2 linked regions of the Homo sapiens genome follow. The protein of the gene in region 1 purifies or fractionates together with the protein of each later gene. This does not show direct contact. Each region holds a gene or a part of one and is shown on either strand. Other genes may lie near its edges.

Region 1 (3,653 bases):
GATCGTGGCTCACTGCAACCCCTGCCTTCTGGGTTCAAGTGATTCTCTTGCCTCATCCACCCGAGTGGCTGGGACTACCAGCATGCACCACCACGCCCAGCTAATTTTTGTATTTTTAGTAGAGATGAGGTCTCACCATGTTGGCCAGGGCTGGTCTTGAACTCCTGGCCTCAAGTGATCCGCCCGCTTTGGTGTCCCAAAGTGCTGGGATTACAGGTGTGAACCACCACGCCCAGCCCCTGCTGAGCTATTTGATAGTTTTGGTACACCAAGAGCAAAATTCTACCAGAAATGTACCTCTTGCTGACATAATTGGAGCTGGGTCCAATCCCTAACAATCAACTCGTTTCTCCCATTCAATCCTCTTCTGTTTTTTCTTTTTTTAGAGATAAGATCTTGCTCTGTTGCCCAGACTTGGAGTGGCACGATCACGGCTCACTGCAGCCTTGAACTCCTGGACTCAAGCGAACCTCCCACCTCAGCTTCTCGAGGAGCTGGGACTAAAGGCATGCACTACCACACCCGGCTAATTTCTTAATTTTTATGTAGAGATGGGTTCTTGCTATGTTGCCTAGACTGCTCTTGAACTCCTGGCCTCCCAGAGTGCTGGGATTACAGGCATGAGCCACTACATCTGCACTTTTTTTCTTTTTTAAAGTGTTGAGGCCAGGGGTGGTGGCTCACGCCTGTAATCCCCGCACTTTGGGAGGCGGAGCAGGCGGATCACCTGAGGTCAGGAGTTCGAGACCAGCCTGGGCAGCAACATGGTGAAACCCCGTCTCTACTAAAAATACAAAAATTAGCCGGGCTTGGTGGTGGGCGCTTGTAATCCCAGCTACTCGAGAAGCTGAGGCAGGTGAATCACTTGAACCTGGGAGGCGGAGGTTGCAGTGAGCCGAGATCACGCCATCGCACTCCAGCCTGGAAACAAGAGCGAGACTCCGTCTCAAAAAAATTAAAGTATTGAGAAACCTACTTCACATTAACAAATAGATTGGAAGACACAGAATTTTGTTACTGTGATGTCTTTGTATTCTTTGAACTCCTGACAAGTTTTATGCCAAACTTCCATTGTGAAAAATTTTTGGTCGTTTCAGTTGACAATTTCAGGTGACAATTCCAGTAATCCTTGAACTTTGTCAAAAACAATGGCTTGGAAACTAGCTTGGTTGCAGAAGGATTTAGTGACCCAGTGTTTGCTTTCTCAAACCCATGCCAGTATTTTGAGTTGTCTCTTTGCTTCCTGCCAGGGAAGTGTTTGGACCTGGGGCAAAGCCCCGTGTTCATATCACAAAGAGAGGGAGGGAGGCCTTCCTTTCCTAGGGGGAGGTTAGGAAGAAAAACCTCTTAGAAGATATGTTCTAGCTTGGGCAACATGGCACCTCTACAAAAAGTACAAAAATTAGCTGGGCATGGGGCACGGTGGCATATGCCTGTAATCCCAGCTACTCAGGAGGCTGAGGCGGGAGGATTGCTTGAGCCTGGGAGGCAGGTTGCAGTGAACTAGGATCATGCTACTGCACTCCAGCCTGGGCAATAGAGTGAGACTCTGTTTCAAAAAAAAAAAAAAGGCGATGAGGCCTGGCGTGGTGGCTCATGCTTGTAATCCTAACACTTTGGGAGGCCGAGGCAGGCAGATCACAAGGTCAGGAGATCGAGACCATCCTGGCTAACACAGTGAAACCCCGTCTCTACTAAAAATACAAAAAATTAGCCAGGTGTGGTGGCATGCACCTGTAATGCCAGCTACTCAGGAGGCTGAGGCAGGAGAATTGCTTGAACCCAGGAGGCAAAGGTTGCAGTGAGCCGAGATCGCACCACTGCACTCCAGCCTGGGTGACAGAGCGAGACTCCGACTCAAAAAAAAAAAAAAAATTAGCCAAGTGTGTGGTGCATGCCTGTAGTCCCAGCTACTGGTGAAGGTGAGGGAAGATCCCTTGAGCCCAGGAGGTTGAGGCTACACTGAGCTATGATCACATCACTGCACTCCAGCCTGGGTGATGGAGTAAGACCCTGTCTCAAAGAATTAAAAAAAGCCGGGCACAGTGGCTCATGCCTGTAATCCCAGCAAATTGGGAGGCCGAAGTGGGTGGATCACCTGAGGTCAGGAATTCAAGACCAGCCTGGCCAACAAGGTGAAACCCCATCTCTACTCAAAATACAAAATTAGCCAAGTGTGGCATATGCCTGTAATCCCAGCTACTTGGGAGGCTGAGGCAGGAGAATCGCTTGAACTTGGGAGGTGGAGGTTGTAATGAGCTGAGATCGTGCCACTGCGCTCCAGCCTGGGCAACAAGAACGAAACTCCATCTCAAAAAAAAGAACTAAAATAATTTTTAATGGCAAATGTGATCTATATTTTATCATAATATCATAATAACAACAAAAAAAACTCTCTGGGTATCCATGTCCTGCTTGGGAGGTATTCATGAACTCCAGGGGCTTGAAGACCCCAGGACTCAGGGTGTTGAAAATATCTCACAATCAGTGCACAGCCGGCACCCCCCTAGAGCAGCATCCTGCCAGATGGCCCACTCGGATCCCATATCAGCCCGGCCCTGCCCATCACCTACCTGGGGGCATCTGGGGCTTAGCCAAGCCTGGAGATGAGGCTGGGGCGGTGGCAGAAGGTCCCTCCAGGGTGACCCTGGGCTCTGGGGCTGACGCGATTCTAGGGGCCGGCTGGGTGGGTGCAGGGCTGTAGGTAGGCGTGGACGCCGGGCCTTTTCCTATGGCCACTGGCGGCGGGATGTCCGCTTCGTCAATGGCATTGCCCTTACGGATGGAGGCGAGCAGGTTTTCCAGTGTCTAAGATAAGGCGTGAGTATTGGTTTGGGAGAAGCCAAGAGCTTGGTGCAGGGCATCGGGGTTGGCGGGGGGTCCCTGTACCCTGCCCTCTGCCCACTTACTTTAAGCCCCCGATCGTAGCGCCGCATCTTGGCGCTGTCTCCAGCTTGTCTGGCGCTTTCAATTGCTGTCTGATAGAGCGCCAGCCTCTCCTGCAAGGTGGTCTCCAGCCCCGGATGAGGGGCCTCAGGCTTCGGCTGTGGGAGGGCAGGGGCACAGTGTGGGTGGTGACCCCACTTGGGATGCCCCTGTTAGCCCCTTCTGCAGTAACAGTCGGCCCCATGTCATCCCTGGACCAGCCTCCCCTGCCCCAGTGAGGCAGAAATCATGGTCCCCATTTCCCAGTGGAGGGAATGGGGTTTCAGAAGCATCATGTCACCCACCTGATATGGGTCACATGGCTGTGAAGGATAAGGGTGGGCCAGGCGCGGTGGCTCACGCCTGTAATCCCAACACTTTGGGAGGCCAAGGCAGGTGGATCACTTGAGGTCAGGACCAGCCTGGCCAACACAGAGAAACACCATCTCTACCAAAAAATACAAAAATTAGCCAGGCGTGGTGGCACACACCTGTAATCCCAGCTACTGGGGAGGCTGAGGTGGGAGGATCCCTTGAACCTGGGAGGCAGAGGTTGTAGTGAGCTGAGATGGCACCACTGCACTCCAGCCTGGGTGACACAGCAAGACTCCATCTCATAAAAAAGGCTAGGTCTTGAACCCCGGGCTGTCCGTTGGGTTGTGGTTCAAGGGAGTGGAGTCATCCAAACTGTACCTGGGCCACAGGAGGTGGGGTCTCTGAAGCCTTCT
Region 2 (3,653 bases), on another chromosome or scaffold:
TGCTTGCATGGGGAAATCCGGGCATGTGTAGAAAAGTTATACTGCAGCTGAAGCGGGCTGAGAGGGTCTTTTTTCCCTAGGGAACGCCAAATAAACTGCGTGTTTTACACCTGCATTTTGACTGTGACATCAAAATGCACATGTAATGTCATGTCAGTGCTCAAAAAGTTTCAGATTTTGGAGCATTTCAAATTTCAGATTTTCAGATTAGGGATGCTCAACCTCTAAATTTAAGTTAAGATAATAGGTTGCCTGGTTGCCATGACACTAAAAAACGTGTCTTTTGCAACTATAAACTTTTGATTTGAGAAGATAGTATTGGCTAAGAAGTTCCTCCAGTTCAGCTTCAAAGTCCTAGCTATAAAAATGTAAAGCAAAGGGACAAACATCATTTGGCATCATTCCCTGAAAAATAAATGGCTCCATCACAATAACAGATACATGATCCAAAACAAAGCTGCTGGTCCCCAGGGGTGGATGACAATGCCCAGTGCTTCCACCACTGCAGCAGCATTAAAGCTACTCCTTACTGATAGATAAAATGACGGTGGCGCTTTATTAGTCTGCATTCCCCAAAAGAACAGCAAAGGGACTGTCTGCCACTGCATGCAGAGTAAGAAGGTTTGATTAGGCTACTCCCCAATTCTGACACTCTCCACCATCAACGGCAAACTATGAGCCATTAATGGCAAACTATGAGGATGAAAAGTCCTTGATGTATTCCTCTTTCTTCTTTGTACTCGGGTTTTTGGCTGACATTAGAGAAAGAAGAGGTTTAAATCAGGTGGAAATCCTAGATAAGCTTAAAACATGCTTTCAAATTTCAAAAAGTAAACCTATTATGTATGTGCATGACCCATAAATATGCTTCACACTCCATCCAACTCACTCCATAATTTGTGAATCTTTTGTCTATAAGTCCTCACTGAACTGTCCAAAAATGGGCTTTGCCTCCAGTGACTACAAAGTCACTACCTGGTCACCCCTCTCTGCTCTATCAGGGATGATCTGTAACTAGCAGGTGGGGGCCTGTAAACAGTCTTCTGCTGACTCTTCTGGGCTGAACTGCCTGAAGGGTTAGTGACCATAAAGCATTCGGTGATATTAGTAAGCAACAGCTTCCCAAATCTACCTTACCCACCTCTTTGGCCTAAACTTTGCAGGTAACTTATTTAAAAAGGAGAAGGGTCCTTTGGGTAACGGATGTATTACTTCCTACTCTCCTAAAACCAAACTCCAATGCTGCACCTTAAATAAAAGCCCTCAAATCTTGCCTCCTGACGTCATGCTGTCATTTGACTTGGCTGCAGGCCCTGATACTCCCCTGCAGGGAGAGGGCCTGCTCTTTGCCCCAGCCTTTACCCCATTCCTCCTTTCTTTCATTCAGTCTCCTTCTACTCCCAGTACACCTCTGGCTGTATTTTATTGTAGTGGTAAACTTTATTTTTACCAAAAAGGAGGTGTGGGGGGGATTTCTGAATACTTTATATAAGCCTAAAGTATACATTCTGCTCATTAGACAGACTGCTAGCTGCCCCAACTACATAAACTTAGATGCTTGGTAGAAGCAATGGAACAAACTTCTCTACTTTTACAAATATAACATTTGGCTAATTTAGAATAGAAATTAATTATTTTCAAAATATTTAACTTCTTGTAACTTTTTAATAAAAGAAATAACACTGTTCAAGTGAAACAGGGCACTTCCTATTTCATTTAAGGGGAAAGCCAAGCTGATAATGCCATAATACCACCTAGCGTTCTCATGTATATGACATTATTTGACTTAGAAAAAATTTTTAATACTCTCTTCTTCTACCTCCCACTAGCAGGAAATTCCATTCTTGCCTTTCCTTTTCACCATTTCATCTCCAATCACCTAGAAAAATGATGTCTGGTGCATAGTAGACCCTTAATAAAGGAATAAAGAAATGTGTAAAAGGAATTTCCTGAATAACTATTTTAAAACTTTTTAAATGAGAAGACTATTATTAAGAGTCTTCCTATGAGCAGGCAACAAACAATGACAAAAGCTATTGTTCACAGATAAAAATGTCCAAAATGTGATTAGGATGTAAATCTCTATCAATGCCTGACAGGTATCTATCAAGAAGTCTCAAAAAATACCAAGAAACATACCAACCAAATGCATGAACCTTGAATGAAATCTGGCTCAAAACAAACAAGAACCAGCTATAAAGATATTCTTGGTAGCACTTTGAGAGGTCAAGGTGGGCAGATTACCTGAGCTCAGGAGTTCCAGACCACCCTGGGCAACATGGTGAAACCCTGTCTTTACTAAAATACAAAAAATTAGCTGGGCATGGTGGCAGGTGCCTGTAGTCCCAGCTACTTGGGAGGCTGAGGCAGGAGAATTGCTTGAACCTGGGAGGCAGAGGTTGCAGTAAGCCGAGATCGCACCACTGCACTCCAGCCTGGGTGACAGAATGAGACTCTGTCTCAAAATAAATAAATAAATAAAAATATTCTTGGGACACTTAGGGAAATTTCATTTAAGTATTAACTGGATATTAGGTGGTATTATGGACTCTTAGGTTTAATAATGGCATTGATGTTATGTAGAAGAATGTCCTTATTCTTAGGAGATAAATGCTTATATATTTAGGAGTGTCATAATATCTGCACTGTACTCTCAAATGATTCAGCAAAAACATGTGTGTGTGTGTGTGTGTGTGTGTAGAAAGAAAAATCAAGCAACTATGGCAAAACATTAATGACTATTTAATCTAGGTGCTTGTTGTTCTGTTCTTTACTGTATGTTAGGAATTTTTTCAAAATGAAAAGCTGGGGAGAAGGAGAAAAAATTCTAAGAGTCAATGAAACTGAACTGTAATCCCCATTTTTATCACTTTTTTTGTGACCAAGTCATTTCACTCACCTTTTTATTCATCAGTTCCCTATTTACATACTTAGAGCAAATGAGATAACGAACATAGAGTGCTTTGCAAAGGAAAAAGCATGATACAGAATATGTAACATCATCGTAACCAACAAACTCTGAAGTTTAATCGCATCCAGACATCTGGTTTCTTTCTCCTCACCTTCTTATGGTTGTAGATTTCACCATTGTAACAGAGCCACAAATACGGATATTTCTTCACTCGAATTGGCTGCATTCCAAACAGCGGGTCAACTACCGCCAACCGGTGAAATCCAAAGCAGCAGTTGGTGTATCCATTGACATTCTCAAAACGGAATGCATCTGGACCTCTGTGTGCAATCTTCATAGCACTCAGACACTGAACAGAAAGGCAATCATCACTGCCAAACAGCGCCCAAATGCCACACATGGTGCAATGAAGCTATAAGCTTTCTATGGAGAGAAAAGCAGACAAATCAAAAATATTCAATATCCAATCCAACTCTGCATTAAATCTTGATTCCGGAAACGTGCATAAACCACTTCAAAGACTAAAATTTAAACCATCTTTTCTATAGCGATTTCCCATTAGGTTGGCAGGCACATGGGAGTAGAGAATGATTTAATTTACTTACAGGTATTCGGAAAAGATAGTGACCTCTACATTCAACCGGCTACAGCAGCTTAGCACCTAGCCAAAGCCTGCATCTCTCCCACCTTAGGATTTAGTGGTTGGCTAGAGCTGACAGCGTCCATGCCACATCTGTCTCTG

Evidence for each region. Proteins that work in one complex are often made in the same cells at the same time.
Region 2: the proteins of CC2D1A (region 1) and ASNS purify together in Homo sapiens (affinity purification with mass spectrometry, with the first as the bait; one large-scale study listed by BioGRID). This does not show direct contact.

Annotation. Positions count from the first base shown.
Region 1 is NC_000019.10:13,912,559-13,916,211, reverse strand, and holds part of CC2D1A (coiled-coil and C2 domain-containing protein 1A), read right to left. Parts: coding exon 3,619-3,653; intron 3,045-3,618; coding exon 2,910-3,044; intron 2,809-2,909; coding exon 2,574-2,808; intron 1-2,573. UniProt on the Homo sapiens protein: Transcription factor that binds specifically to the DRE (dual repressor element) and represses HTR1A gene transcription in neuronal cells. The combination of calcium and ATP specifically inactivates the binding with FRE.
Region 2 is NC_000007.14:97,865,846-97,869,498, forward strand, and holds part of ASNS (asparagine synthetase [glutamine-hydrolyzing]), read right to left. Parts: intron 3,335-3,653; 5' UTR 3,312-3,334; coding exon 3,063-3,311; intron 1-3,062.